2 separate regions of the Homo sapiens genome follow, and region 2 is linked to region 1. Evidence: fine-mapped expression QTL. Tissue or cell type: lymphoblastoid cells. Region 1 holds a variant in brackets; the other region holds the start of a gene. All regions are shown on one strand. Distances are between the middles of the regions.

Region 1 (16,305 bases):
AGCCAGGTCACAGGGCTTAGCAAGAGCCAGACCATGTGTGATGAGTAACAGAGAGCATTATAATTCTAATGATTTCCCATCTTCAGGTCCTTAGTTATTAAACAAAACAAAACAACACCTACTAGATAGAAAACTAGTCATTCTACTACAACTTCTTCCCTTTGATCTGCTAAAAATTACCTGAAGATTCAAATGCCTAGCAGCTCAGGAAAGAACACTATTAATGACACTTCATACTAAAGAGGCAATTCTCCAAAAATAAATAAATGAATGAATAAATAAGTAAATAAAGTGGGTTGGGGGGAACAAAATTTAGGGCTCTTCTCATTATAAAGCCATGGAGTAACCATTTAATATGGGATTTTTTTTAAGAAAGGGAATTTCCCATTATTAAGCATATCAAGTCTATTTTCCTAAGTATATCAAGCTATTCATTTGACGAAGTGAGGTCTGTCTCCGCTCCACCTCTGTGCACCAGCTGCATGCGTGTTCCACCATAACTCTTTCAAAGCAATTGGCTGGTTTGGATGAAATGCAATATATTCACATACCAGAATCTTTGGGACACAGCTAAAGCAGTGTTAAAAGGGAAATTTATGTAACTAAATGCCCACATCAGAAAGCTAGAAAGATCTCAAATCAACACCCTAACATCACAATTAAAAGAACTAGAGAAGCAAGAGCAAAGAAATTCAAAAACTAGCAGAAAACAAGAAATAACTAAGATCAGAGCAAAACTGAAGGAGACAGAGACATGAAAAACCCTTCAAAAAAATCAATGAATCCAGGAGCTGGTTTTTTGAAAAAATTTAAAAAATAGATAGACCACTAGCTAGACTAATAAAGAAGAGAGAAAAATCAAATACACACAATAAAAAATGATAAAGGGGATATCACCACTGATCCCACAGAAATACAAACTACCATTAGAGAATACTATAAACACCTCTATGCAAATAAACAAGAAAACCTAGAAGAAATGGATAAATTCCTGGACACATACACCCTCCCAAGACTAAACTAGGAAGAAGTCGAATCCCTGAATAGACCAATAACAAGTTCTGAAATTGAGGTAGTAATTAATAGCCTACCAACCAAAAAAAGCTCAGGACCAGATGGATTCACAGCTGAATTCTACCAGAGGTACAAAGATGAGGTGGTGCCATTCCTTCTGAAACTATTCCAAACAACTCAAAAGGAGAGACTCCTCCCTAACTCATCCTATGAGGCCCACATCATCCTGATACCAAAACCTGGCAAAGACACAACAAAAAAAGAAAACTTCAGGCCAATATCCCTGATGAACATCGAGACAAAAATCCTCAATAAAATACTGGCAAACCAAATCCAGCAGCACATCAAAAAGCTTATCCACCGTGATCAAGTCGACTTCATCCCTGGGATGCAAGGTTGGTTCAACATACACAAATCAATAAATGCAACCCATCACATAAACAGAACCAAGGAAAAAAACCACATGATTATCTCAATAGATGCAGAAAAGGCCTCTGATAAAATTCAACATCCATTCATGCTAAAAACTCTCAATAAAGCTAAAAACTCTCATAAACTAGGTATTGATGGAAGACATCTCAAAATAACAACAGCTATTTATGACAAACCCATACCAATATCATACTGAATGGGCAAAAGCTAGAAGCTTCCCTTTGAAAACCAGCACAAGACAAGGATGCCCTCTCTCACCACTCCCGTTTAACACAGTATCGGGAGTTCTGGCCATGGCAATCAGGCAAGAGAAAGAAATAAAGGGTATTCAAATAGGAAGAGAGGAAGTCAAATTGTCTCTGTTTGCAGATGACATGATTGTATATTTAGAAAACCCCACCATCTCAGCCCAAAAACTCCTTAAGCTGATAAGCAACTTCAGCAAAGTCTCAGGATACAAAATCAATGTGCAAAAATCACAAGCATTCCTATACACCAATAGACAAGCAGAGAGCCAAATCTTGAATAAACTGCCATTCACAATTGCTACAAAGAGAATAAAATACCTAGGAATACAGCTGACAAAGGACGTGAAGGACTTCTTCAAGGAGAACTACAAACCACTCTGCTCAAGGAAATGAGAGGACACAAACAAAAGGGAAAACATTCCATGCTCATGGATAGGAATAATCAACATGAAAATGGCCACACTGTCCAAAGTAATTTATAGATTCAATGCTATTCCCATCAAACTACCATTGACATTCTTCACAGAATTAGAAAAAAACTACTTTAAATTTCATATGGAACCAAAAAAGGGCCCACACAGCCAAGACAATCCTAAGCAAGAAGAACAAAGCTGGAGGCATCATGCTACCTGACCTCAAACTATATTTCAAGGCTACAGTAACCAAAACAGCACAGTACTGGTACCAAAACAGACATATAGACCAATGGAACAGAACAGAGACCTCAGAAATAATGCCACACATCTACAACCATCTGATCTTCGACAAACTGGACAAAAACAAGCAATGGGAAAAGCATTCTCTATCTGATAAATTGTGCTGGGAAAACTGGCTAGCCATATGCAGAAAACTGAAACTGGACCCCCTTCTTACATCTTATACAAAAATTAAGATGGAGTAAAGACTTAAATGTAAAACTCAAAACCATAAAAACCCTAGAAGAATACCTAGGCAATGCCATTTAGGACATGGACATGAGCAAAGACTTCATGATTAAAACACCAAAAGCAATTGCAACAAAAGCCAAAATTGATAAATGGGATCTAATTAAACGAAAGAGCTTCTGCATAGCAAAAGAAACTAGCCTCAGAATGAACACGCAACCTACAGAATGAGAGAAAATGTTTGCAATCTACCCATTTGACAAAGGTCTAATATCCAGAAAATACAAGGAACTTAAATTTACAAGAAAAACACAAACGACCCCATCAAAAAGTGGGCAAAGGATATGAACAGACACTTCTCAAAAGAAGACATTTATGCAGCCAACAAATATAGGAAAAAAATCTCATCATCACTGATCATTAGAGAAATGCAAATCAAACCCACAATGAGATACCATCTCTTGCCAGTTAGAATGGCGATTATTAAAAAATCAGGAAACAATAGATGCTGGCAAGGCTGAGGAGAAATAGGAACGCTTTTACACTGTTAGTGGGAATATAAATTAGTTCAACCATTGTGGAATAAAGCATGGTGATTCCTCAAGGATCTAGAACCAGAAATACCATTTGACCCAGCAATCCCGTTAATGGGTATATACCCAAAGGAATATAAATCATTCTACTATAAAGACACATGCACATGTATGTTTATTGCAGCACCATTTACAATACCAAAGACATGGAACCAACCCTAATGCCCATCAATAATAGACTAGATAAAGAAAATGTGGTACATACACACCATGGAATACTATGCAGCCGTAAGAATGAGCTCATGTCCTTTGCAGGGACATGGATGAAGCCAGAAGCCATCATCCTCAACAAACTAACACAGGAACAGAAAACCAAACACCACATGTTCTCACTCATAAGTGGGAGCTGAGCAATGAGAATACGTGACACAGGGAGGGGAACAACATACACCAGGGGCTGTTGTGGGGTGAGGGGCAAGGGGAGGGAGAGCATTTGGACAAACACTAGTGCATGCAGGACTCAAAACCTCGATGACAGGTTGATAGGTGCAGCAAACCACCATGGCACATGTATACCTATGTAACAAACCTGCACATTCTGCACATGTATCCCAGAACTTAAAAGAAAAAAAAAAAGAGAAAATTTTAAAAAAAGAAAGAAAAAAAAAGAAATGCAATATATTCCTCTGAAACCTGTAGAGACATACTACATGGCTTATTTTATCATTCCAAACTAAACAGAAGACTGTTTCAGGGTACAGAATTTCAACATGTTGGTGAACAGCCACCATATCCATCTCCTTTGTTAATGTCCTTGCCCCTCTGATTTTTTAGGGGATTTATGAATCTGAAAAGACAACTTTGCATTTTTAGATTCAAGAATAAAGGAAGTCAAAGGTCTTCTGCAGGAAGGCTAAGACAGAGAGGTTCTCTGATAAAACTATGACTCTCAGTGACCAGTATACATTTAGGAAGAACCAGTAGTTTCGATATTCTCTGGAGGTGTGACATCCAACTGGCCTTGACAATGCTTGGATCTGCAGAACAAGCTCTCCTCATGGTAAATGCTGTGTGGTGACAGGTATGGGTGTTTATAACCAGACTTGAATAGGCTATAGAAAAACAAGGTGAGAAATATGCTGAAGTGCCAACCTTTAAGCAGCAGCACTGCTGGAGAAATCCAGGGCACAACTTCCCAAGAGAATTAACTTGCTATCTGTTTCCTCTCTGTAAAGTGGGGATAAAATAGTACTAGCTCTCAGGCTGGAGCATACTTTACTAAGTTCTCAACAAATAGTATATTTCTCAAATGTGCCCACCACTTCACATGCTGAGTCCTCATAAAATTACCTCCCAAAGACTCCACCTCCAAATACCATCACACTGGGATTAGGATTTTGACATAGGCATTTTGAAAGGACATATTTAGTCCACTGCAGAGGTCCACTTATATGCTTTGGTAGACCTCCTCGGTGTTGACCAACAATATAGTAGCTAAAGTTTGTTAAGCACATACTGTATGCCAGGCACTGAGTTCTTCCAATGGATTCCTCATCAAGTTCTAACTACAAGCCGGTGATGTGAGTTTTATTACTGGCATGTTATACAGTGAGGATCTGAGGCCCAAAGATTAAGTATACTGCCAAGGTTGCACAGATAATGAATGGTACAACTGAGATCTGAACCCTGGCTGTCTGACTCTAGAGCCAACGTCTTAATCACTAAACAAAATACTTCCCTTAAAAAATAATAACGTGTTTTTAAATGTGGTTTTATTAATTGCCAAATAGCTCGACTTTCATTCGCAAGCATCAACAAATCTGATGCTGAGTTTGCCATGGTCCCCACTACTCCCTACCCTTTCTTAACTTCAAGGGTAGGGCTCATTCACCATTTTTCATCATTATTGCTTGCACTTTTCCTACTTAGAAAAATTTGAAGTAAAATATTTCTTGTGCTTACATCTGTATCAAAGGTGGGGAAATATAAGATGTTAGTTTGATTTAATCGTTCTACATTGTATACATAAATCAAAACATCACATTGAACCCCATAAATATATGCAATTATGATTTGTCAATTAAAAATATTAAGTGGGAAAATAATATGCTGTGCCATATGTTTGAAGAAAAAGGAAGTGGAAATGAATATATTCTTGTGTGTTTAATAAACAAAGTAATATGTACTTTCCTTCCCATGTTCAGTACATCACCTGCCTGCTTGAAATATCTGAATTTGATCTGTCTTAGTGTCTACATAATTTTAAGCAGCATAAGACATTGACAGCAAGTGCACAGTTGTTCAACAGAGAACATTTTTAATTCTGGCAACAAAGATAGTGGAACGAATCCCACATGCCATATAATAATGCTTACAAACTTTTTATTTTTAATTTTTATGGGTATATAGGTGTACATATCTGTGAGGTGCATTAGATGTTTTGATACAGGCATGCACTGTGAAATAATCACATCATGAAGAATGGAGTACCCCTCCCACCCCTCCCCTCAAGCATTTATCCTTTGTTACATTCTTTCAGTTATTTTAAAATGCACAATTAAGTTATTATTGACTACAGTCACCCTGTTATGCTGTCAAATAGTAGGTCTCATTCATTCTGAGTTTTTTTGTACCCATTAACTTTCCCCACTCCCTCCAAGCCCCCCACTACCCTTCCCAGCCTCTGGTAATCATCCTTCTACTACTTTCTAAGTCCATGAGTTCAACTGTTTTGATTTTTAGATCCCACAAATAAGAGAGAACTTGCAATGAATAATGCTTTTTATATTTACATAACTTAGTAGTCTCTGGTGAATTTAATTAGTATCTGTTATATTTTTTAAGTATTTAATTTGTTTGGATAGAAAGAAACCCAGCCCAGGAAGAGGCTCCATGTTAACCCCGTGGCACACCAATGCCTCCTGGGTAAGGGAATCCTAGCTTGTGGGGGGAAAAAAAAAAAAAAGCCTCTAAGCATCACCCCCCTCGGCTGCAGTGTTTGCTTCCAGTTACAGGAGTCTCTGTGCTGCCCCAATCAGACTTCCAAGTAACAAAGGCTACTGGGAGTCTAGTTCCATTGCAGCCACCTGAGGGGACCCATTTGTAAGGAAGTGGTAAGAGGCACACCCAGGTACCTGCTGTTTCACAAAGAGAAATGACGGATCTGTTGTGTGGTTTGTCTCAACTACATCACAGCTGAAATTCAATTTGCAAGGGTAAGAGAGTTAATAGTGGGCCTTAAATTTAAAATCAGCTAAGGTTTATGCTGGTAGGTTGACAGTGCTAAATTTATTTACCCTTATCACTGTTCCATTATCTCAAACATTCTACTATTAAGATGGGTGGTGGTGGGAGAAGCTTATTTGGCATTCACTTCAACCTGGTGAACAGTTATTTATAGACAGGAAAATAGCCATGGCCACCTATCAGGATGGAAACCACCAGCCAGAGCCATGCCTTCACTGAAGTGCCTCTGAGGGCTTGCTAAAAGCAGAAACTAACCCACAAGGTGGGATTAAGCCTCCTTCTACTTAATTTCAACCAAGAAGTTTAATCAACCAGGTTTTACACTACTTTATTTACTGTTACCATGTTTTTGGAACTTAGAACTCCACTGTTGGCCATCTCTTAGGAAGTAAAGAAAGAAGAAATCTTCCTACTGGATTTACTTCAAAAATGAGAGTAGAATAAATACACAAAGGGCCAGGACAGATAGTAAGTCAGTGTGGGTCTTCATTTTAATCTTGTTTGTATGTTTATTCTTGGTTTTACCTACACCTTCTCTGAAGAGCAATGTGAAGTGAATTTATAAATCAAGGGTATTATATAGGCTTTTAAAACATATCAGTATGTCATAAAGACGAATTAGTAAATACCTGACATGCAATGCTACATCATTTAGGGTGATGCTTAGGGTTAAATCCTTGCACGATGAAGTTACAGTTTAGGACTAAAGAGGTAACAACTCACAAAAATCAAAAGCCAAATGACACACTGGTCTCAAGGAAGATCTCCTCTAACCATAATGAAAAACACACTACAAAATGCATCATTCGCTCAATGAAAAGTGGGAGTGTCTTTGGTAAAAACATACTAAATCAAAATATCTTCCACTGCTGACATGTAGGGCTGGGCAAAATGGCACACATGGAAGAAACACCCTGCGAGGAGTCTTCAAAATCAGCCCATTAAATGCTTTTTAGTTTTAATACTTGCTTGCTAATCAGAACTACAATATTCATAACCAAATCCTCATTAAAAGGAATTTGTTAGACTATTTCTCTAACATTTTCTAAATACAATGTAACTTTTAAAAGTCAATCAAAAATTGAAGTGTTTTAGAACTCAGGGAAAAGACGGAAACAGAGTATCCATTCTACCAATGGACTGCCACTAGAATCCAGGTGAAATAAATTATTTAAAACCATAGCTAAGTCCAAAACAAAGTAACCTTTTGATCTACAACACTTGGGGGAAAGGCAGAGGGAAAAGGTAGGCAAGGAAAATACATGATTTATTCAGATTATAAGTGGACATGTGGACTGAGTGTGCTGGCCTCCAGGTGGTTCTGAGTGGAGAATAAGAAAAAGCCATCAAGCACAGAACACACAAATACGACTCTCTGGCCCTGAGGGAAAAGAATCTGAGTGATGAAACCCAAATATATGAGTGAAATCTAAAAATAGCCCTGTTTCTACAGAGGTATTTTCCTTTTAACATTCATTCGAAATGTGTGGGAAGACAAAGCAGTTGGAGTTAAGTGAATTTCCAGATTTCATTAAAAGTCAAGTGATACTCCGAACCATTTTCAACCAATAGTAAAAATACAATTTCCCCTTCCTTTAGTTTTTTTTCTTGGAAGTTGGGGAGCGGAGGAGGGAGACACAATACTGGGCAAGAGTATCATTTCTAAATTTTCTGAGAAGCTGATATTACCTATAGGTTACACATCTTTAACATCTAACTTATGTCATGGGAAACCATTAGATCCTTGGAACTTTGTCAGTGAAAACCACCGTAATTATTTTTTTCCATAAAGAAAGATGAATAGAGAATGACAGAATGTTGACACTGTGATTACATTTTCCCATCATGCCACAAATTTAAAAGATTTCATTATTACAGCCTATGATTTTTTTTCTTCCCTTAAGATTTAGAAGAAAAAAAAAGTGGTAAGAAAAAACAACTTGTGGGTTGAAACATGTAATTCCAGGACTTCTTCAAAAAAGTTCAAAGGGTTTCTACTAGTAACCAAGTTCTATGCTCTAAGTTGTCTTTACTTGCAGGTAAACCTTTTCTAGAAGACTCCTGCCTCAACTGTTTCGGTGTGTGGCAGAGATACAAA[C/T]TGGTAGCAATGACTAGGGGTAAGAAATCCCCGCGTCTCACTGGGATAGCCTGCCTGTGGAACAAGGAGTACCATTCATTCATTAGTCCTGGGTGCCCCTATGGGTGCTCTATGAACTCAAACACATTTGGACTACGTGTCCTCTGTGTGCCCAGCACTGATGGAAACACAACCTATCCCTACCCTCAAAAGAATCAAGTTTAGTGAAAGGGCTTACAATGTGAACAGCTTCTCCTAATCATGTTCTGGAGCACCAGATCTGGTCTGGAAAACTGGAAAAAGTGGAACAAGCACGAGGTGACACATAATCGAGATAATGAGACATGGGGAGAATCCAAGCCTATATGTGAATCCTCCCATTTTTCTGCATATTTTATGCAGCACAAGATAAATACTATAGGAATATTAGGTGTTGGAACAAATTAAACTTGCAAATCATACTTCTAGTACCTGGCCATCCCAAACAAGTCCTTCAGGACCTTCACACAAACACAGGTCTCACAATCTCATGGCCGTCTCAGTGAAACTACGTAAGATAACAAGAAGGTGACCTACATAGTCAGTCTGTAATGGGGAACCAGAGACTTTTCCCCTCCTATTCCCTGAAAGCATACTTTCAGGAGTAAGGGGCAAAGAAAAGGAAATGAAAAGGTACACCACACCATCCTTGTTCACACCATCCTTGTTCACATGTAAGCCTATTTCTGTACACAAGTCACTTTATGAAAGCACCAACAGTATTTGTAAGGGAGTCTGTAAAGAACCAGAAGCTTAAACTGGAATGTAAAAGACGCACTTTAAAGGTATACCATATAATCATTTTATTCTGGGCAACTCAATATTTTAATTCAAAACAGTCAGTTTTACTGGAAATTCTACAGATGTATGCTAGGCATTTTAATTAAAGTAGAAAACAAGGTGGGGGAAAAATCTGACAAACAGAGACATGGAAAGGTGGAACTATAACTTGTACAACTCCAGAGGCACTATTCATGCTGCACTTCATGTGACTGGAGTTGGGCAATGCCAACCTATGTAGCCATCCACAGGACTTTAAAATAGTACAGGGATGCTACTTAGTGTCCCAGTCCATTCCCAGGTTCTAATGAAAGGGCCCTCCTATTGCATTTGCAGGGTAAATGTTTCCCAATCTAGTGATGATCCTTCCCTTTTCCATCTTTCTAAACTTCTACTTCAGCAAAAATGAAAAGGCAGCTTAACCCATGCTAGTGAATAAGCACGTTAAATTGCTTCTAGTTTCAGACAACTGAGAATCCTACTGAAATCTGTTGTTGTTTTTGCCTGCCTAGCATACAGAGATTGACTTTACAAGGAATGACCCACCTCCATTCCCTGCACTCTTGGTATCATGTCAGGCCCATCCCACCCCCAATCCTGCTAGAAATGTGATGCTGAGCAGACCTAAGATGTGAGAAATTGACTTTCTTCCTGGAACCCTAAATGCCCAAAGTCTCCTATGCTTTCCAGTCTTCCTTACAGATACAAAGACTGCCCCATATTCTTCTGCTATGTACGTGTGTGTGTGTGTGTTTGTCTTAAATTTAGTTTCTCTTGCTTGCAACCAAAATAATTCTGATATATCAACTAAAAGGAAAAGAACAAAGAAATATCCCCTTTGGTGCTACTTGGTGCCTTCTCTATGCTCTTACAGAGGTACAAACCAAGTCAGTAAACAGAGCAATATACTAAGGAAGTAGGTATCTGTTCAATATCCCTCCATCAAGCTGAAAGTCCCAGGGGATATTCTACCAAATGCATTCCAGTGAAAAGTATCCTAAGTTCCAGTCTGAAACTACTTGAAAATAATAAGAGGTCTCAGGTTGACTACTCAAATATAAAAAAAAAAATTATCATCAGGCAACTGAAACACATTTCGAGTATATGTTGCATTAGACTCCTTAGAGTTGTTCTTAGTTGCCCCAATGTCGTAGGGCTTGAGTTTCTTGCCACATTAGTAAGAGGGTTCAATTAATATATATATCAATTCATAGATATACATGGGCAACATATTATTTTTAATAGCATGATCTTACATTTTATAGTGCTATGCAAAGTGATTCCATGTACTATTTCTCCTTCGATCTTCGCAAGCACCCTCTCAGTAGTCAGGGACAACAGGCATCTTAATACTTTACAAAAAAGGAAACTAGATCAAACCTTGCCCAGAATCTGTACCAGCAGGGCTAAAGCTGGCCCAAGGACAGCCTCAAATCAAGATCTCTGTCCGCCAGATCTCTGTGAGCACTCTACTGCACCACCCTGACAAATCCAGAATCCCAGAGCCCACATTGTACCTAGCCTCAGGTGTCCTCACCAGCTAATGGAAGAAGTGGTACTAAACAAATTCATGGAGTAGGATGGAGGAGAGGCAAATCAAAGGCACAGAAAGAGGAGGCTCAAGTCCCAACTTGCTTTAGACAGGGAAACACTTGCTTCAGTGTTGCCTCACTAATCACATTTATTTTTGGCTTCATTGTGAGAGCTATTAACTATCAACAACAGATTCATAGTCTTAGGCAATTAAGGCTGCTACAACAAATTACCTTAGACTGGGTAACTTTTTAAAAACACAAATTTATGGTTGGGCACGGTGGCTTATGCCTGTAATCCCAGCACTTTGGGAGGCAGAGGTGGGCAGATCACAAGGTCAAGAGATTGAGACCATTCTGTCCAACATGGTGAAACCCCGTCTCCACTAAAAATACAAAAATTAGCTGGGCCTGGTGGCGCATGCCTGTAGTCCCAGCTACTCGGGAGGCTGAGGCAGAAGAATCACTTGAACCCAGGAGGCAGAGGTTGCAGTGGGCCGAGATTATGCCACTGCACTCCAGCCTGGTAACAGAAGGAGACTCCGTCTCAAAAAAAAAAAAAAAAAAAAAAAAAAACCCACACAGATTTATTTCTTACAGTCCTAGAGGTTGTAGAGGTTGGGAAGTGTGAGGTGAAGGTGCCAGCATACTCGATGTCTGGTATGGGGCTGCTTTCTGGTTCATGGAATGGTGCCTTCGCACCGTTCCCTCACACAGTGGAAGGAGCAAGGAAGTACACTAATCCCATTCATGAGGGCAGAGCCATCATGACCCAATGACCTCCTAAAGACACCACCTTCTAATAGCACCACCTTGGTGATTAAGATTTAACATACAGATTTGGGAAAACAAATTCAGACCATGGCATTCTGCCCCTGCCCCTCCAAAATTCATGTTTTTCTCACGTGCAAAATACATTAATTCCACCTCAATAGCCCCAAAAGTCTTAACTCAATCCAGTACCAACTCAAACGTTTAAAGTCCATAGTCTCATCTAAATGCCATCTAAATCAGATATAGGGAAGACTCAAATGTATGATTCATCTGAGGCAAATTCCCTTCCAGCTGTAAGCCTGTGAAATCAAACAAGTTACGTGCTTCCAAAGTATTACAGTGGGAAAGGCCAAATGGACATTAGAACTGCCTCTACCTAGGAAAACAGTAAATCCAAAGCAATACTGCATTCCTAGAGGGTTTACAGAGATGTGCCACCATCAAGGATTTGAAAGTTGCAGGGGTGATGATTCCCACCATATCTTCCAATTCAGCTCTCCCATTTGACCTGTGCAGAAGACAAATGGATCTTGGAAAAGGACAGTGGACTATCATAAGCTTAACAAACCAGTGATTCCAATTGCAGCTGCTGTACCAGATGGGGTCTCATTGCTTAAGCAAATCAGCATATCACCTGGTACCTGGTATGCTGCTGTTGATCTAGCAAATGCCCTTTTCTCCATACCTGTCCACAAGGCCAGCCAAAATCAGTTTGCTGTCACCTGACAAGGCCAACAATATAACTTTTACCATGCTGCCTCAGAGGTACATCAACTTTCCAGCCCCACATCATAATTTAGTGTGAAGGGATCTTGATCACCTTTCCCTTCCACAAGACATCACACTGGACCATTACACTGATGACATTATGCTGACTGAATCTAGTGAGTGAGAAGCAGCAACTACTCCAGACTTACTGGTAAGACATTTGTGTGTTAAGAGTGCAGGAAACAAATCTGATAAAATGCAGGTCTTCCATCTCAGTGAAATGCCTATGGGTCCAGAGGTGTGGGGCATGTTAAGACATCCCTTCCAAGATGAAGTACAAGTTGTTATATTTGGCCCCTCCTACCATCAAAAAGTGCAATGACTAGTGGACCCATCTGGATTTTGGAGGCAACATATTCTGCATTTGGGCGTGTTACTCTAGCCCACTTACTGAGTGACCCAAAGAGCTGCTAGTTTTGAATGAGGCCCAGAATGGGATAAAGCTCTGCAATAGATCCAGGCTTCCGTGCAAGTTGCTCTTCCACTGGGGCCATATGATCCAGCAGATTCCAACATTGCCTGAAGTGTCTATCAGTGGCAGACATAGATGCCATTTAGACTCTTCAGCAGGATCCTACAAATGAATTGCAGCACCGGCTTTTAGGATTTTACAATAAGGTGTTGCCATCACCTACAGATGGCTACCCTCCTTCTGAGAGACAGCTCTTGGGCTGGGCCTTGGTAGAAAATGAGCACTTAATCATGGGCTACCAAGTTACCATATGACCCAAACTGCCCATCATGAATTGGGTATTATATGATCAACCAAGCCACAAAGCTGGGCATGCACAGCAGCACTCCATCATCAAATGGAAGTGGTATATACACGATCAGGCGAAAGCAGATCCTGAAGGCACAAGTAAGTTAAATGTCATCATGGCTCAAATGCCCACAGTCCCCACTCCTGCTACACTGTCTTCTCTAGTCCCAGCCTGCACCTATGGCCTCATGGGCAATTCCCTACAATCAGCTGACACAGGAAGAGAAGACTTGGGCCTAGTTTGCAGATGATTCTGCACTACATGCAGGCACCACCTGAAAGTGGACAGTTGCAGTATTATAGCCGTTCCCTGTGACATCCTCAAAGGACAGTGGTGAAGGGAAATCCTCCCAGTGGGCAGAACTTCAGCAGTCCACCTGGTTGTGCACTTTGCTTGAAAGAAGAAATGGCCAGACATGCAATTATATACCCAATTCATGGGCTGTAGCCAATGGCATGGCTGGATGTCCACAGACATGATTGGAAAATCGGTCACAAAGAAATCTGGGGGAGAAGTATGTTGACAGACCATTCTGAATGGGCTAAAAACATGAAGATATTAGTTTCCTATGTGAATGCTTACCAAAGAGTAACCTTCAGCAGAGGAGGATTTCAAGTGGATAGAATGACCTATTCTATGGATGCCAGTCAGCCTCTTTTCCCAGCCACTTGTCATCGCCCAGTGGCTCATGAACAAAGTGGCTATGGTGGCAGGGATGGAGGTTAGGCATGGGCTCAGCAACACAGACTTCAACTCGCCAAGGCTGACCTGGCTACAGCCACTGCTGAGTGCCCAATCTGCCAGCAGCAAAGACCAACACTGAGCCCCCTTTATGGCACCATTCCCCAGGGTCATCAGCCAGCTAACTGGTGGCAGGTTGATTACACTGGACCTCTTCCATCAAGGAAGGCACAGTGTTTTATCCTTACTGGAATGGACATTGACTCTGGAGATGAATTCGCCTTTCCTGCATGCAATGCCTCTGCCAAAATCACCAACCATGGACTTCCAGAATGCCCTATTCACCATCATAGTGAATAAGAAGCATTGCTTCTGACCAAGCAACTCACTTCACAGACCACAAAATGAGGAAAGGGGCCCGAACTCACGGAATTCAATAGTCTTACCATGTTCCCTACCATCATAAAGCACCATCCTGAAGTAGCTGATTTGATTGTACAATGGAACAACCTTCTGAAGACTCAGTTACATGCTACGTAGCTGACAACACCTTGCAGGGCTTGGAGCAAGGTTAGCCAGAAGACTGTATATGCTCTGAATCAGCATCTGCTATATGGTAGTGCTTCTCTGACAGCCAAGATTCACAGGTATAGGAATCAGGAGTGGAAATGGGAGTGGGTGGCACCACTCACCATTACGCCTAGTGGGTCACTGGCAAAATGTTTGCTTCCTATTCCCACAACTTTATGCTCTGCTGGCCTTAGTTCCAGAGGGAAGAATGCTTCCAGCAGGAGACACAACAATAATTCCATTGAAATGCAAGTTAAGGACATCAGGCCACTTTGGGCTCCTCATGCCTCTGAGTCAGCAGGACAAGAAAGGAGTTACAGTGTTGGCTGGAGTGACCCATCCAGATTACCAAGAAGAAACTGGACTACTATTCCACAGTGGAGGTAAGGAAAAGTATGTCTGGAATACAAGAGATCGTTTAGAGCTTCTCTTAGTATTACCATGCCCAGCAACTAAGGCCAATGAAAAATGACAACAACCCAATCCAGGCAGAACTGCCAATGATCCAGACCCTTCAGAAATGAAGGTTTAAGCCACCCGACCAGATAAAGAATCATAACCAGCTGAAGGCAAAGGGAATACAGAATGAGTAGTAGGAAAGCTAGTTATGATACCATCTGTGACCATGTGACCAGTTACAGAAAGGAAGATTGTAATTACCATGAGTATTTCCTCCCTATTTTGTTATGAATACGTTTGTGTGTATATAAACATATATTAAGTAAATATCCTTGTTTTCCTTCCTCTCTTATTCCCTTATCACACAAGATGTTAATGACTTTATGTCAGTATTTCAGTAATGATAATTTTCTATACTATTTAAGTTACAGAGTCTCAGGAGAGGAGTAAACATCACTCAAGGACTTCACCTCCACTTCCAGAGAAGGGATAAGTGCACTTTCAGTTGTACACAGGATCATTGTACCTTGATAGGTGGAATTATGACCTTGTCATTGTCTTTATTTGGAGGTTAGGTATGGTTTAAGGGGATGTGTATGGATGTTAAGTTGACAAGGTAGACTTGTGTAATTTGACTGGGTTAAAGGGTACCCAGATAGCTGGTAGAACATTATTTGTGGGTGTGTCTGTGAGAGTGTTTCTAGAAGAGATTAGCATTTAATCTGTAGATTCAGGAAAGATCCTCTCTCACCAATGTGCGTGGGCATCATCCAATCGGTTTAGGGCCCAGGTAGAACAAAAAGGCAGAGGAAGGGTGAATTCACTCTCCTAGAGCTGAAACATCTATCCTCTCCTTCCATTGCACACTGGAGATCCCCTAGTTCTTAGGTCTTTGGCTCTGGTACTCACACCAGCAGTAAGTCATCCCCATCCCCCTCTGCCAGCACCACCATTGGCTATTGGCTCTCCTGGTCCTCAGGCCTTTAGACCCAGCTAAATTACACCATCACCTTCCCTAGTTCTCCAGCTTGCAGATGGCAGATGGCGGGACTCCTTGGCCTTCCTACAATAAATCCCCTTGACAGATTTCCTATTGGTCCTGTTTCCTTGAGAAAACAAAGACTAATAAAGTAAGTATTGTTGGGGCAATAATTGTGGCTATTGAGGAAACCATGTCATAAGCCAGTTCATTCTTCAAAACTAGGCAAAACTTATTTCTAATACAGAATATTTAACTTCTACCTCCCTTAAATGTTGGCAAAAATAAGACCAAACAACAATCCACTCAGCAAACATAGAGCATGTTTGCTCTAGAGTTAATCCATGTGCCACTTATAGGTTAAGTATAGGTAACAAAGTAAAACATATCACCCTTGCCTTTTAGGAGCTTAAAGTTTAATTAAGTTCCATTACACCTGAGAATAGAGCCGCCAATTCTCTGACTTCTGTGTATCTCTTCCTTTATCATTCTATTTCCTGCCAGAAGCTTCTGGCAAAACAAAATCTTGGGATGAGAGACCTTGAAATTTGGTCAAATGCTTAAAATCAAGAACTGAAACCAAAACAA
Region 2 (16,305 bases), 41 kb after region 1:
ATAGCTTTCCTATTATTTCCTTGTGTTTTAGTCAATTGTCTTCATTAAATATTGTCTAAGTGGCACAATATCTAGTTTTAAGCCAAAAGGAAAAGATCTATTGTAAGTCACGAAATCGCACCAACTGCATTGGAAATTGAACTTGCTTCCCTGGTTTTCCCCATTTAATTCACAACTGTGGCTATGGTTTAAAAGAATAGAAATTGTTTATTTGGCACCAAATTTGCTCCACTGTAAAAATAAATAAAAGTATCTCTTCTGAGGTGGGGGGAAAAAGTTTATTTTAATATCTAAGGCTATCCAATATTAGATTACATGTTTGACTACTGCTCAAGTGTTCATTATTTTCTTTTCAAAAGAGCTTTCACAATGTATGTTAAAAGACTACAGGGAAGAGGGAGGCTGAGAAATTATGGGCCCTCTTAACTCTCAACACAGGCTTCTGTGGCCCTGTTCAGGGTGAGAAGATCTTTTATCAGATGAGGGATTCAACCCAGTGAAAAGTTACCTCACTTAACAAATAAGGTCTAATGCTGGACAGGCTCCAAACAGATTTAGAGTTGTAATATAAGAGCATTTCCTTTTTCAAATAATTTGTCTATCGTTCATACAGCAAAGGAGAGCTCCAAAGTTTTATCATTTAAATACTCAAAAACAACATTTTTAATCTCACACAACATTTTCTGTTCCAGAAAATCAGGCTGTAAGAACCTGTGACATGAAGAAGTCATTTTACTCTCAATTAATCCAGGACTTACTGACCCAGCACTGTCTGAGAATTAAGAGACTCAAAGGAAGCTGTGATTACCCCAACTCGAGTTGCAGAGAAAAGAATAACGTGCCGGAAAGTCAGAAACCAGGCAACATCAGGATGTATAAAGAACTAGACTGCTTGAGTCCCTAACCTGGTCTGCCACTTACAGGCTGTGTGGCCTAAGCTAGGCAAGTTCTTTAACTTCTCTGTGCCTCAGTTTCCTCATCTAGAACATGGCAATAAAAGTATCTATCTTGTATAATTATGTGCAGTCAATGACGTAGCCCATGGAAAGTATTAGAAAGGGCTTGGCATGAGGTAGGCACCTCACATACAATATCGGTATCAAATTAGCTGTAAGTGTTGTGTGGTCAAGCTAAGTGCTTTAAGGAGGAAGGGCAGGGAAGGCTTCGTGGAAGCTGTGGCACCTGAGCTAGATATGAAAGCACAAGATAATCCAGACACTCAGAGGGAAGCACATTCCAGACGTGGACAGCCATTACTGCAGAAAGTCACAGACAGAGTAAAAACCAGGAACGCTTAAACATCAATGAGGAAAACAAGCTCACCAAAGCTGAGGGTGTATTTGGTAACCCCAGATTAATTGGGAGTGATGGGGAAGGCTCTGCACACTTGTTGCTGTGCTTCTAGGACTTAACATTCAGTTCATTTTTAGACACATGTTCTATGTATGCAAACTTGTGGACTATGAATGCAAACTCTCCCTGAAATGCTCTGTTCTCCCCCTGCTCCTAGAACAGTGGAAAGGATACTAAAAAATTAAAAGGTAACCTTTTATTTCTGAAAAAAAAAATCTGCTGGATGAAATATAGGTCACTAAAATCAACTTGAATCTCATGTTCGTCTGTCCCTGTTTCAGTGGGGCTACAAACAAGGTGACAGCTCAGAGAAAGGGGGTGAACTTCAGATCCACACTTCAACGCTGGTCTCTATCAGCAGCCTCAGCCACTCTAAATAATATAATCTACATAAAAGACAGTACACTTGCTAAGTGAATGCATCTTCAAGAGGGGTATCATCCACCCTAGCCTGATCTGTCAACCAGACATTACCTCCAAGCCACATACAGAAATAGAGAAAATGCTCTCAGTACCAGTTTCTTAAATAGTACCTGTGCAATCAATTTCCTCTAAACTTTGAGGGTTTTGTTGTTGTTGTTGTTGTTGTTGTTTTGAGACGGAGTCTCGCTCTGTAGTCCAGGCTGGAGTTCAGTGGCGCAATCTCCGTTCACTGCAAGCTCCGCCTCCCTGGTTCAGGACATTCTCCTGCCTCAGCCTCCTGAGTAACTGGGACTACAGGCACCCGCCACCACACCCGGCTAATTTTTTGTATTTTTAGTAGAGACGGGGTTTCCCCGTGTTAGCCAGGATGGTCTCGATGTCCTGACCTCATGATCCTCCCGACTTGGCCTCCCAAAGTGCTGGGATTACAGGCTTGAGCCACCGCGCCCGGCCTAAACTTTGAGGTCTTGAAACCACTACAACAGATGCTGTGCGTACTTAAGATTGGTATTCACTTAGAATATTACCTCTATTACCAAGTTAGAAATTGTAATACCAAAATAAGTCACCATATTCCTCATCCAAAGAGGAAAAAATCACAACAGAATATAGAACTTCTATTTTGACTGGTGTCCCCTCTAGAGAGAAAACAAGTTTGCTAACCCAAGTTGGACACCTTGCTTTGTTTCCGGCAATATAAGGATAGACTTAACACTGGAAATACCAGAGCACGGCTTGAAGCCAGGGAGGGCCCCACAGCAGTTACAAGCTCTGTGATTATTTCCTGAACCAAACACCTAGGGCACTCAAGGATACCAAGCTTTGTTGGAAAAGCATGTTTCCTCTGGTCCAACAGCTGCAACTTTAAAGTGTTTTCACACAAGACCTCAAGTTTCTCTTTATGCCATCTCCCAAATATTTACAAAATGAAACACTTTCAATCAGAACTTTTGCTTGTAAACACCTTATTTGTTTTAAGGACCATAGTGCCAACACTAAAAGCAGCCTTTTAAACAAAGTAGCTCAAAACCACACACACACACACACACACACACACACACACACACACACACACCCCTTAACAAGCAGAACATGTCCACAAAACAAGAAAGCCAGGATTCAAATTCCTTAGCACCTATTCATGGAGCTCCTGTAAGCACCACCCAAGGATGTGACCCACCACACCCTCTTCATTATCACACCTCCTCACTAATTTACTAATTTATGCTCCTGAAAACCCACAGAATCAGACTACTGGATGGTAACATGTTACAAATATTGGGCAAATGTTCTTTCACATTTCTTTCACATCAACCAGCCTGAAACAACTGATCCTGTTTACGGAACGGCTCTGCCTCAGGTGAGAGGACTATTGTCTCCCAGCTCTTCTGGGAGACACTGGTGGCCTGGCAAAGGCTTCTGGGTATCTTTCTCTTGGTGTCTCTCCCTATTCACGTGTCACACACCTCCTGGGAAGATTATCTGGGCCAAGGATAGTGCAACTGAGAGAAATCTAGAAATGCCTGGTTCAGGGGTAATAAGAAATTGTAACTACAAAGAAACAGTCGATGTGAGTGAATGTATTCTAAAAGCAAATAATTAGGAAATATGTCTATTTCAAATACATAGAAGGCCTTTTATGCCAGACAAGTTTTGGTTTATGATGAAATGAAACTGCTTGATAGAAAAGCTAAGGGGAATATTACCACGGATGACAGAACTATCAGTGGAAATAATAGACCTTGGATCTCCAATCATAGTTCTGCTACTTAATATTCGTTTAACATATATTTATTAAAGACCTACAAATGAACAAACTGCTCTAAATGCTGGGGGGACAGAAAAGGACAAAACAAAGACACTGCCCTCAAGGAGCTTATAATCTAGTAGGGTAGACAAGCAGAAGAATGAAGGAAATTTTCATTTAATGGTAAGTTCCAGGAAAAAAGTGACAACTTCTGATCCTGTTTCCTCATGGGGATGTAGCTACCTACTTAAAATAAGATCGTAAGTGTCAACCACCAAGCACACAGCAATCCCAAGCATTTACCTGACTATGGATACACATGCACAGACACTCTCATATACACACTTTCCCCCATAATTGCAACATCTGTGATAATGCACATTGGTATAAAATGCAAGCAGAGGGGAAACAAAATATTTATATGTCAATTACACTTAATGCAATTACAAATAACTGCATTCATTAGGAATCTATAAAAAGGCAAAACCTAAACAATTAGTTATAATACTAAAGTATAATTAGAAGGGTCCAGATACTGGAATAATAGTAGTGGTAGTATAAACAGTATTATAAATAGTCACATAGCTGCCTTGTCCATATAACCTGACGGCACAGTATCAGAAGCCAAGTTTAAACCCTTAACTTCAGATTACTTTGGGGTCGGGGACGAAAAAGGACAATGACCAAGTCTATCTTGGAATCATAGGCCATTGCGCCTAGAATTAACGTTAGGAAACCCTCTCTACCCTTTCCTCACATTACCAAAGAGAAGACTGAGGTTCCCAGAGGTAAAGGGTTAATCCCAACGTGGAGTAGCCAGTGACTGACAGAGCCAGAGTAGGACCCAAGGCTCCTGGTTATGGCCCTGCATGCTTCACCCTCAAGGACCTGCGCCCTCTAGCCTGGCTTTAGATTTTATGAGAACCACAAGGGACTGCAGTGTCTTCCAGCCGTTATTAATTGTCCCTAATCACTTCCAATCAGCTGCACCTAGAGCAAATTGAGGGCCTTTGCTGGTGACCAGAGAGCTCTCTTTATGCACAACAGGGGAGGGCGCCTTTCATGACAAAGCTGCCTCCAACACCATAAACTACCTTATTGGGGAAATGATGCGGCTAGCCCGAAAGGGGGAAGAGATTTTTCAAATTATAATTTTCAGAGTTTGCCTCAGGAAAAAGGCGCCAAACAATTAGTTTCAGGGAGAGAGGTGGCGTGATGAGGTGTGGCACGGGGAAGGGAAAGGGGTTTAGAACTGTGTCCAAGCTATTTAGGAGAGAAAGGGGAGAGTCCCGGGGCTGTGAAAGGGGCGAGGAGGAGAGAGCAGCTGGGCCAGGGCGAGCGTTTGACCACACCCACTAGCCACTCCCTCCCAGCTGCCCGCAGAGCCACATCGAATCGAAACAGCAGTGGCAGCGGCTAAGATTCCGAAGGCAGGAGTCGCCATGGCAACGGGATTCATCTTGCAGGCAACTCCGCTTCGATTCACTGGGTCCTGCTCGAATCTCAAGAAACTACCAGCAAAACGGTCACGGTGGCATTTGCTCTTGATGCTCTCCAGAAAGTGGAGATGAAGGAGAGGGGAATGGAGTTCAGGCATCACTAAATATGTTATGGGGCGAGAGGTAGCTCCGCAAAGCCAGGCCGTGAACAACTTGAGACCTTAGCAGGGTTTGATGAATGAGTAAACGAACAAATGAAGGTACTAGGAAAGGCAAAGAACATCCAGAGGACTGAGAGCTCTGGGCCTCCTGCACGTCTCCACTCAGAGGGCAAGCCGATCACAAGCAGTTGGCTTTCAGAACCAGCTGGGTAAACCCGATTATCCAGCCCTCCTGCCCCACAGCGAGCCTAATCATTAGATTATCCGACACCTCCACCCCCGCGCTACCACCTCCTGGCCCAGGGCTTCAGGGCAGGCGCTTCGCCCCAGCCCAGGTGCTCTACACCAAGGGACCGTGGAGACTGAGATGCGCCCTCCCGAGAGGGACGGGCGGCAAAAGCCCTCTGCGGTGCCTCACAACCGGGTCCGCAGGCGGCGCAGCCTCCCCGGCCGCCAACACCCTGCTCTCCCTCCGCAACGCCCGATTTCCCTTCTCTCTGTTTTGAAACATTTAGGTCCAACTTAGTCTGAATTACAGGCGCTCCGTCCCTTTCGAATGGGGCTGGAAGTGAGGGTGCCAGGGGCACTGGGGGCTCTGCTCGGACGCGAACGGGTACACGAGTCCCTCCTTCCCTGTCGCCACCGCCGTGTCCACCAAGCCTGCCTCGGGGTTCTCCCTCTCGGAGCCGCCGGGCCGGGAGCTCGCGGACGCCGCTGCAGTACCCGCGGCCCCAGCCCCGGGGAGCCTTCAGCAAGGCGGCGAGTGTTACCCCGCCAGCTCCTCGGCCAGCCGGGCGCCTTAGAAAGAAAGGGAGGGACCCCAGTCCTTGGGGGCGTCTTCCTCCCTGCTGCCTCGGTTTGCGTTGCGCTGCAGCCATTTTCCCACCCCCAGCTAGGCAGCCGAGAGCTGTCTCGGTCCCGTTCCCACCCAGACCCAACCTGAAGGACGGGTTTAATATTTACCTACTGGCCCGGGAGCTCCGGGGAGGCAGCAGGAGGGCGCGCCGCGAACCCAGCGCCCAGCCCACGGAAGCACGCCCACCCCCGCACCACTGAGCAGTGCCACTTAATGAATGAGTGCGGCGGGCAAGGAGGAGCGTCCCCCTTACCTGAGCAGCCCCTGCATGCTGGAAAGGCGGCTCTGCACTCTGGGTACAATGGGATCCGGTTAAACAGTTTCCTTCACAGCCGCTCGTAGGTTACTAACTCGCAGGTGACATCACCCTCTCCTCGCCTGATAGGATACAAAGTGGCTCCCACTGCGCATGGACGCTCCGGTCGGGCGCGCAGACTCCTGGGAGTAGTGGTCCCAATCTATTAGCGGAGCCGGGACAGCTTTGCTGTCGGGACTCGCGGAACTACATCTCCCGACACACTCCTCCGCCCTTCTGCCCCGCCTCTTATTCCCGCCCCCTTCAGGACCCGCCCCCTCCCAGCCTTACAGCCTTGCAGTGTTAGCGGTGGTCGTTCCGAAGCCGAGCTGCGGACCGCACGGGAGAGTGGGAGGGCTGCCCTGCGGTCGTGTGTGTTGACTTGACCTCTACTTTGCCCGGCGCGGGCTCTGAAGGATCGGAGAGGTCCGGGGCTCGCGTGGTCCGGCCAGGCTCGCTCTAACTGGTCTTTCTTGGTCCCTGCTGGGAAGGGACGATTAAGACTTTTCTGCCTTCCCCAGGCGTAGCAGCTAATTCAGAGGGCTTACTGTTTTCTGGGTTAAATACGGTCCTCGAATTCTCCCCGCTCAACACTTCCAGAGGATGGGGCGACGCCGGTCCCAAGGCGGAGGAATCTCCTTGTACCCCCTCAATTCACCTTTCTCTTTTCTGCTTCCCGTTTAACGGAGACAAGGTGACCAGGCAGAACGCGGGGAACCACTTAGTCGGCTGAGCTGACAGAATAACGGAGGTTGTCACTACCAGAAGTGCGGTGTGATAGACTAGACAGTCGCCGCAACCCTCCGTCAGGGCGCCTGCTGCTGCTGCAAAGATAATACTATCGTGCAGCCATGCTTTTGTTCATCCCTGCAGCAGACTTCCCGCGCTGGTGGCTCTCCACTCCCAGGAAGAAAACGTCCTTGTCTAAAGTTTTAATAATTGTGTATCTATGTATACACATGTTTTTAAATCCACAACACTCTCACCTCATTTTCCATACCTTTTCAAATATTTTTATAAAGACATTAAACCAAACAACATCGTGCCGTTCAAGAATTGCCCTGCTCTTAACACACCTAAATATTTATTTAAAGGTAAGCAAAAGGTGTGTAGCAGAATTCTGACCCTTTAGGCAGGTTGTATTGTTAATACATAATTTTTTCCGTGGCATTTTTCATTATTCAGTGAATACCAAGTGTCTTTTAATATGAAAAGAATCAATGCATTTAGTTACTCGAGTTGTAAATGTAAATTTTAATGGCATTTGATGTGTCTCAATTCCATATAATGATCAGCTCACACACCCGTTCCACTAGCAAAATCTCTAGAAGACTGTGCATCTTGTGAAAAAAAGGTTCACAATTAAGATTTCAGACAACTCCCTACTGAAGTGTTGGTGGAACTCTTATCATTTATTTTCTCCTTTCATTCTGCAACACTAAGTTGGGTTCAAGTGAAAAAATATTTATGAAATTAGTTGAGGATCTCAGGGGAGAGGAAATGCTTTGTTTTGCTCAGAGAGATGTTTAGCGATGAATTCTGATGTTCTTTTAACAAGCCTGTTCTTTATAGACAAGACCCACTTTTCTCCCCCGAAAGAAGATAGCTTTGAATGTTGCTCTTCTGTCCTCAGCTACTTCTTCCATTTCAAATATTATCTAAAATGAACTCTGACAATATAAATTTTCCCCTGGCCATCAGATCAAGGATATAATCACTGATATTCTAACTAATGGGTAGACTTAATGTAACGCAGTTCATGGTGGAAAAATATTCAGAGAGAAACTTGACCTGGGATGATTCTAAAGGCTCTTCTAATTTTATAACTGTGTAAAGCTTTTAGACTGAAACATAATCAGTGAGCCTGAAATTTATTGAGTCAATAAATTGAATGTGGAGCCTTTCTGTTAAGACAGGGCTTATCCTTGTAGATAAAAGTATGTTACTGAGGCACACTCTGAGGAGTAATTTTAATGGAGAAATCACCTTACAACAAGTTCTCTTGGCTCTTCAGTAATGAAGGAGAAGATGCAGTCTGTCTGAAAACAAAAATTCCATTCTCTTTAACAATATTATAGGGATGTGCCATGTGACATAGTCATCTCCATATAAAGGACAGCATACACAATAGACTGTAAGCACATAAATGTGGAGAAATGCACATGTGAACTGCTCTTCCTATCTAATAGCTATAAATATAGATAATAGATGTAGAAAGAGGGCATTGTGTTTGGAAAAATTATCTGCAAGTGGTGATGGATTTGAACTGATCCCTGCACAGTTTCATTGGTAACCAAGGGAAACAAAGATGGCTCTTTAACATGAGAAATACAGTCTGTAGAACTAGCAGCAGAGGAGGCTTAACCACTTCTTTGGAGACAGAAGGAAACTCACACACACACTCTCTCTCACTCACTTTCATACACAATCATTGTGTATGTTTGCATTTAATTTTTTCTAGGTGGCCAAGTAGTCTCATAAATCATCAAAAACACCCACTCTGTCTAGCTAATTGATATTCTCAGTCAAAATGGGTTTCTTTACTTTCTATCTTTTCATTTTACATAACTGCTGCTGTTCTGAAGACCTTATGAAAAGCCCTGCCTCATCCCATAATCGTGGCCTATTAATTAGGAACCTGTGAGACCACTAAGAACAGATTTGACAGTCTATACAGGTAGGGGATGAGGAGAAGGCACCACGAAGCATTTTGATGATCTTTTAAAATCACCTCTCTCAGTGCTGGTTATAAGGTTTTACTCTAGATACTGGATTTTAGATAAAGGAGGAAATGAGTTATCAACAGAGAGAAAGAAATGAAAGTGTGTAGCCTTGCGTGTACTTTCATGCAATAGCTTGGTGTTTTGCAACAATCAAGGTTGTATGCTAAGCCCAGGTTTGGGATTGTGCCATTCCATTATTTGTGATCCATGTTACTTTGCATATTTGTGTTATTTATTCTCTCTGAGCCTCAGTTTCCTTATTTATAAAATAGGGTTAATAATAATATATATTTCATGAGGTTTTTGAGGATTAAATTAAATGAAGCATGTAAAAATATTTTTCAAACTGAAAAGCACTATACAAATGTTAGTTCTTGATATCATTTGCAATTTTTCCCAAAAGATTATCTCAGAAATGTCAGGCCTAATTATGGAACAAGGTAATAAAAACCCATTTAAATTAAAAATTCTTATTCTTAACAGAGACTATTAGAAAGAATATAGCATGCACATATTATCTCACTCTAATTGGTAAGTAGGCAAAATGTACTTTGAAGACTAAAATGAGAAATTCAGGGTTGAACAGTGCCAGTCCTTGACTTGTTCTCAGATCTATATGTTCTTCCTCAGGATCCCCTGCTGTCCTCAGTAACATAGGGAGCTTTTCCCAAGCTTCCCAGCATGGAGAGGCACTGCTGGGGGATTGTAGGCAGGAGGAAGAGAGAAGCTAGGGAATTTCTTCACTTCCTCAGAGGTGCATTGGGTGATGTTTCTGGCAGTGGCAGCAGCATTTTCCTTGTTGGACTGGTCTGTCATGGTTCCAGCTTCTTCCAGGTCACCCTGGCCTTGTAACACCACCTTCTCCCTTTGTCCCTCTTGCCTAGCGGTAGAGATAGCTTCCTGCTGTTGCTAATCTCTGCGTTGGGTGTTTGGCTTCACAGATCTTCTATCACAGTATGGCCAATTCTCTGGACCACATTATCTCTGTTTTAAATACTACTTAGAATCGTTTCTGTTTTTTTGGTGGAACACTTTAACTGACATACTCACACTTTAGTTAAAGTTCTTTTAGGGGCAGACAACAAGAACTTTCTATGGCCAGTTTATGCAAAACAAAGAATGTAATGGGATTTATTCAAAGGATTAGACAACCAAGGCTCAAGACAAACAGGAACTGGACAAACTAGGAACCTAAGCAGTGGTAGTTTTCAGACCTCTCCAGAGCACTGGTCTACTAGCACTAAGACTCCGAGCTCTTTGTTCCAAATTTCAAATTCCTGAGAGAAGCTTATTGTCCTATGTCAGGCAACAGTCCCTGACTTAATTATCTTAAAGTACAATCCCCAGACCAGCAACATCAGTATCACCTGAGAACTTGTTAGATATGCAGATACTTGGGCCACACCTACACACCTACTGGAAAAGAAGCTTTAGGGATGGGTCCCACCACATGTGTCTTCACAAGTCCTCCAGCTGAGTCAGACACACTTGAATGTTTTTGAACCATGGATCTACAGCAAGCGTAACAAGATTGTGTGGCTCAAATATGATCACTCAGGACCTATCCCCGTGTGTCTGGGAGTCTTCTCAAAAAGGAGAAAGTGTGAATCTGGAAGCCACCCCAAGAGGTGTCAGTTAAAGCTGGTAAATCTATCAGGATCTTAATGGTAAAACTTGGTTCTTCCTGAGGGAGAGGACTTTGTAGCATTCTGAGCCAACTATTCAGTTTAGTCACTAAAAAGGCACTTGGAGGAGATTCATTTCACTGTGTTTAATTGAGAGCTCAGAAAAACTGAAAAAGCGGCATCGGAACAGAACAAGGGAGATGGAGTCATACAGAAACGTGAGAATGGCAACAATACTAAGGTTAGGCACAGTAAGTGGAGGGGTGAAAATACCTCCAGCCACCCAAAACTCTCTCCAGACCAGTCTTATTTGAACAGCTCCTCGGAGTTCAGAAAGAGAAACTCTCCTTTGACATATTTTAGCCGGTCTTCCTGTATAAGCTTCTTCGTAACTGGCTTACTCTTAGTCCATCTGTGAGACCTGTGCTGTTCAATTCTGTAGTCACTGGCCTCATGTGGCTATTTAAATTTCAATTAATTAAAATTGATGAAATTTTAAAACTCAATTACTCAGTCACAGTAGCCACATTTCAAGTGCTCAAGAGCTGTGTGAGGCCAGTGGCTACCATACAGGACATCACAGATACAGAGTATTCCCATTACTTCTTCAGAAAGTTCTGTTGGACAGCACTGCTACACATTTGTTCACTAATGACTGTTTAGATTCTTTCATGCTGAAATCCACCTTCTTTTCTTCTTCTTCCCCAAGTCAAATTCTGAAGAGAGAGAAAATGAAGAGACAAAGAGAAAGGATATATAATTGTTCTAGTTCACCAACTGAAGCTAGAACATATAATAAATCACTGGCCATCACGAAAAAGACAGCCCAACTAATGCTTAAATTCATTTGTCAGCAGGAAAATATAAATTAAGACTATAATGGGATACCACTACATACCCATCACATTGGTTAAAATTAAAAGGACCAACTATACTAAGCATTGCCAAAGATAAGAAACAAATCTTACACTGCTAGTGAAACTGTAAACTGGTAAAACTGCTTTGGAAAAATCTTTATTAGTATTTGCTAAGCATGAGCATACACATCCTTTATGGCTGAGCAATTTCACTGCTAGCAATATACCTAACAGAGTTGTGTATATGTGTTCACCAAAAGTTACCTATTCAAATGTTCATAGTTATGCTATTCATATATTCATACATGTATTCATATAGCCTAGGGTTGCCATACAATATTTGGGATATACTTACACTAAAAATATTTATTGTTTGTCTGAAATTCAAATTTAAGGAGACATTAGGTATTTTTATTTGCTAAATCTGGCAACTCCATGATAGCCCCAAACTAAAATCAACACAGTTGCTCATCAACGGTACAGTGGATAAATAGATTGTGGCATAGGCACATAATACTATATCGCAGGGGTTGGCAAACTTTTTTCTGTAAGGGGCCAGATAGTAAATATTTTAGGCTTTGAGGGCCATATGATCTCTGTTACAGTTACTCAGTGCTGCCATTGTAGCATGAAAGCAGTCGTAGACATAAAGGAATGAGTATGGCTGTGTTCCAATAAAGCTTTATTTACAAAACAGTCAGCTGGCCTGTAAGCCTGTAAGCCATAGTTTGCCAACCCGTGCTATCTGGCTATGAGAATTAACAAGCTATGTCTACGTGTGAAAATAGGAGGAACCGCACCAAAAAACACTGAGTAAAAAGAGTATATACTGTATGATTCCACTTATGTAACATTTTTTTAAAGAGGTAAAGCCATTGATAGTGTTAGAAGACAGAGTAACAGTTACCTTTAGGGGATAGTAATAGAAGAGAACATGAGAGGTCTCTGGGATGCTGGTATTTTTTATCTGGGTGCTGTTTATGTGGCTACTTTATTTTGTGAAAATTTATCATGCTGTACACTTAAGATTTGTGTCCACTTATGTATATACATATTAAAATAAAATATTTATATGAATTAAATACTAGGCCAAATTATCTCAAGATCATTCCCATAAGAAATTGTTTTATGTATTCTGGTACCCAAGTTTTTTAATATATTTTTCTAATTATAATGGTTATTCATGTCTTTTGTAAAGAATTTAGAAAATATTGCTACTTAAGGCCATAAAAATCACCCATGAGCCAACAAACGAGGGAGAAATATTAACATTTCTCCCTCCACTCCCCACCATCTTCCCTCTCATTGGATTTTTTTACATCATTAGCATTTTGAGTGCTATGTGATATTTTATTTTGGGAAGATAACCATTTGTTCTTGTTATTTATTTTTTATTTCATAATTATAAACTTAACTCTGTAATCCAGCTAGACTTAGAGAATAAGGAAAATATGGAACCCAAAGAATTGCAACAAGAGCACAAAGATAATGGACATTGCAAACAGATGGGATGGAGGGATACTCTCTTGAGCTACAGAAAGAACAGTGTGGTGGCTAAGATAAAACACAAGCCAAATTTATTAGAGTTGTCCACAGTTAGCAATGGCGATCTTCTTGTTGGTCTTGCCATTTCTGGACCCAAAGCACTCTGTGCCTTCCAAGATATTCCTTCTGTCTTTACCTTGCCAAAAAACCACATGCTTGCCATCCAACCACTCAGGCCCAGCTGTGCAGATGATAGACTGGAACTGTTGATGTTGGGTTCAGAATTTGCCATGGACAAGATGCCAGGACCTGTATGTGTCAGGATGAAGTTCTCATCCTCAAATTTCTCCCCGTAGATGGACTTGTGTCAGTACCACTATGGCATATGAAGTCACCACCCTGGCATAAAACCCCTGGAATAATTCTGTGAAAGCAGGAATACTTCTTTTCTCTCCAGTGGTCAAAGATCTAGGGGGTTAGGACTCCAGCATATGAATCAACATATGAATTGGGTGTGGGGGAATACAGTTCAACCCATAATAGTCAGAATACAAAAGTTGTCTGCTATCTCTGGAACCGTCTGCAAACAGCTCAAGGAAGGAGATGTGGCCCCAGGGCTCGCCATCCACTGTGACGTGGAAGAACAATGTGGCTCTATAGCATATGTTAGGTGTATTGGTTTGCTAGGGCTGCTGTAACAAAGTACCACAGAAATGTATTGTCTCACAGTTCTGGGGGCTACAAGTCCAAAATCAAGCCCTGTCTGTAGGGTTGGTTCCTTCTGAGGGCTGTAGGGGAAGGATGTGTTCCAGGCCTCTCTCCTTGGCTTGTAGATGGCCATCTACTTTCTATTATCCTCCTTCTATGCATGTCTATCTCTGTGACCAAATTTACCCTTTTTATAAAGATACCAGTCATATTGGATTAAGACCCACCCTGGCCAGGGGCAGTGGTCCATGCCTGTAGTCCCAGTGCTTTGGGAGGCCGAGGCGGGAGAATTGCTTGAGTTCAGAAGTTCAAGACTAGCCTGGGCAACATAGCAAGACCCCGTCTCTACAAAAAATACAAAAATTAGTCACGTTTGGTGGTCATGCTTGTGGTCCCAGCTATTTGGGAGACGGAGGTGGGAGGATCACTTGAGCCTGGGAGGTTGAGGCTGCAGGGAGCTGAGATCATGCCACTGCACTCCAGCCTGGGTGATGCAGTAAACCCCGTCTCAAGAAAAAACCAAACCAAACCAAACCAAATCAAAAAAACAGCAAAAGACCCACCCTAATGACCTCACTTTAATTTGACTGCCTCTGCAAAGACCCTTTTTCCAAATAAAGTCACACTCTAAGATCCTGGGGATTAAGACTTCAGCATATGAGTCAACATATGAATTGAGTGTGGGGGAATACAATTCAACCCATAATACTCAGTAAACACAAATAAGGGAAAACTGACTTTCTAGGTCTCAGCACCAGTGTTTTGCATGTCATAGTCACATAGATGTTAAAGCTGTTGAACATCTGATTAGGAAATATAGATAGGATCAAAAAACTGAATATAGCAACCTGAAACTTTTCAAAAATAATGGAAATAAAAAACAGAGGGTGTTTCCTGAGTTATGTGGAAGCCATGGTGCTGTTTTGGGGTGTGAAGGCTGAGGTCTTGCCTCTAGGTATCCAGCCCTGTCACTCTTGATCAGGAATTCTCAGATGAAGACTCTGCCGACCTTCCATTGGTAAAAATTCCCTGGTCATACATTTTAGACAAACCATCCCAAGTTAGCTTTCAAAATATCCCCTATTGAGGGTGTCATACAATTTTCATTTTCTTTTTCTCTTTAAAGGTCAAATCTCTGCATGGGCTCTTTAACCCTAAAATGGGCAGTCCATGTGTGGCAAAACCTTGTCTACAAGTAAAAGATGGGCTGAGTGGACAGAAAGAATTCTGTTTACTCTTTTGGTTTCTGTAACTTTCTTTGCCGGGAGTTATCCTGGCACACGTGTTCTGTTTCGTGGCAGAAATATTACAGCGTGTAGGATTTATTTAAGAGGCTTCTTTCACAGCAGGTTGTGCTAGCACTTAGACATTGGATTTTAAGATTAGGGATGACTTTAGTCCTGTATTACATGAGAACCTTGTGATGTGGAATTTCTCATGGAAAGCCACACTTCAGTACAATATGTCATGGCATATTATCTTTGAGAGTATTTTCTCTTCACCAAACTGTGATTGTAACCTTTTCTCTCGGGTTGTCTGTGCCCTCTCCCTGTGTCTCAAGCTCCTAAAATAATATTTTGGGTTGTCAGAAGACTAACCACCCAGTTAAAGGGGAAAGGGAGATATTGGAATGCTTCTTTCTGGCTTTGCTTTCTTGCGAGTGACAGGTTTTCTTCTCTGGGATTTATGTTATTGTTTTAGAAAATTATACTCATTTAAATCTAAACATAGTTAACGCAAGCAAAATATAACCCCATTACTTTTCACACACGTGTAACAGTGATTCTGAATAACAGGGTCAACTCCCTCTTGACTTAGGCATGTAAGTTAACTATGCTTGAAGCTACACTACCTCTGGCTACAAGCACGCTAGAATTTGCAAGTTGAGCAGCTTTGAGTAAGGTCAATGCTAGGATGGGAATCTCTAACAAAAACCCAGACGTATCAGAGATGAACATAGGATTTTAAGTGTTTGATTGTGTCCCAATTCACTTGTGGCAGATCCTTACAGCCATCATTTCAGAAAGCCTTGTCACAAGGCACATCCCTACTTAACGTTCAGGTGAAGAGTTCCCTGCTCAAGGTAGATGCACATCGGTGGTATGCTGGGAACCCACAGCCCTGCCTCACAAAACCCATTGTCAAATTTGGGAAATTTTGTGAGCCAATTGTTAAACACAGCTGATATTAAAAATTAAATTGTATAAACATAATTATATTATATTGAAAACAAAGGTAATAAATACTCTAAGGTCATCACTTGTTAATTGTTACTCATTTTACTATTATTTGTGCTCTTGTGGTCCCTCTGAATCTGAGTGCTGGAAGTACTGTCATGATGTGTTACTGTACATCTCTCCCCAACCTCACATTCAGTGATGTCACACTGGTAGCAAGACATCAGTCGTAATGGGAGTATTTCCAACAAAGAAATCTGCAGATGCTACAAATTAGGGCTTCCCTCACAGATCCAGTTGTTAAATGCTTACTGGCATCCCCATCTCCTTGTATTTGTTTTTTTGTTGTTATTTAAATAATTTCAACTTTTATTTTGGATGCAGGGGGTACAGGTGCAGGCTTGTTACATTTGTAATAGAAGAGAATAACTGCTATGCAATGCTCTGCATTTTTCC

Alleles and levels. Positions count from the first base shown, and alleles are read on the strand shown. Sizes are in standard deviations (SD) of each study's normalised expression.
With allele T in place of C in region 1, the expression in lymphoblastoid cells of the gene that starts at base 6,334 in region 2 is higher (moderate effect, 0.62 SD a copy in TwinsUK).

What was found. PIP is the estimated chance that this variant, and not a neighbour inherited with it, causes the effect.
Region 2: DAAM1 starts here. The variant in region 1 is fine-mapped to the expression of DAAM1 in lymphoblastoid cells (TwinsUK, PIP 0.95).

The regions. Positions count from the first base shown.
Region 1 is chr14:59,220,076-59,236,380 of GRCh38, reverse strand. All of the region lies in intron 1 of DAAM1 (dishevelled associated activator of morphogenesis 1), which reads right to left. Among named protein-coding and RNA genes, the nearest start is that of DAAM1, 40 kb to the right of the region's middle. RefSeq lists a silencer at 15,696-15,990. The variant C/T (reference allele first, on the strand shown) is at 8,456.
Region 2 is chr14:59,178,696-59,195,000 of GRCh38, reverse strand. DAAM1 (dishevelled associated activator of morphogenesis 1) reads right to left here and starts at 6,334. Exons shown (of 25, transcript NM_001270520.2): 1 at 6,233-6,334. It overlaps LOC107984642 (a long non-coding RNA gene), which reads right to left. Exons shown (of 2, transcript XR_001750928.1): 2 at 10,754-11,338. It also overlaps the pseudogene PPIAP5. RefSeq lists enhancers at 4,702-4,751, 5,182-5,341, 5,052-5,811, 6,592-6,831 and silencers at 5,702-5,921, 5,982-6,121.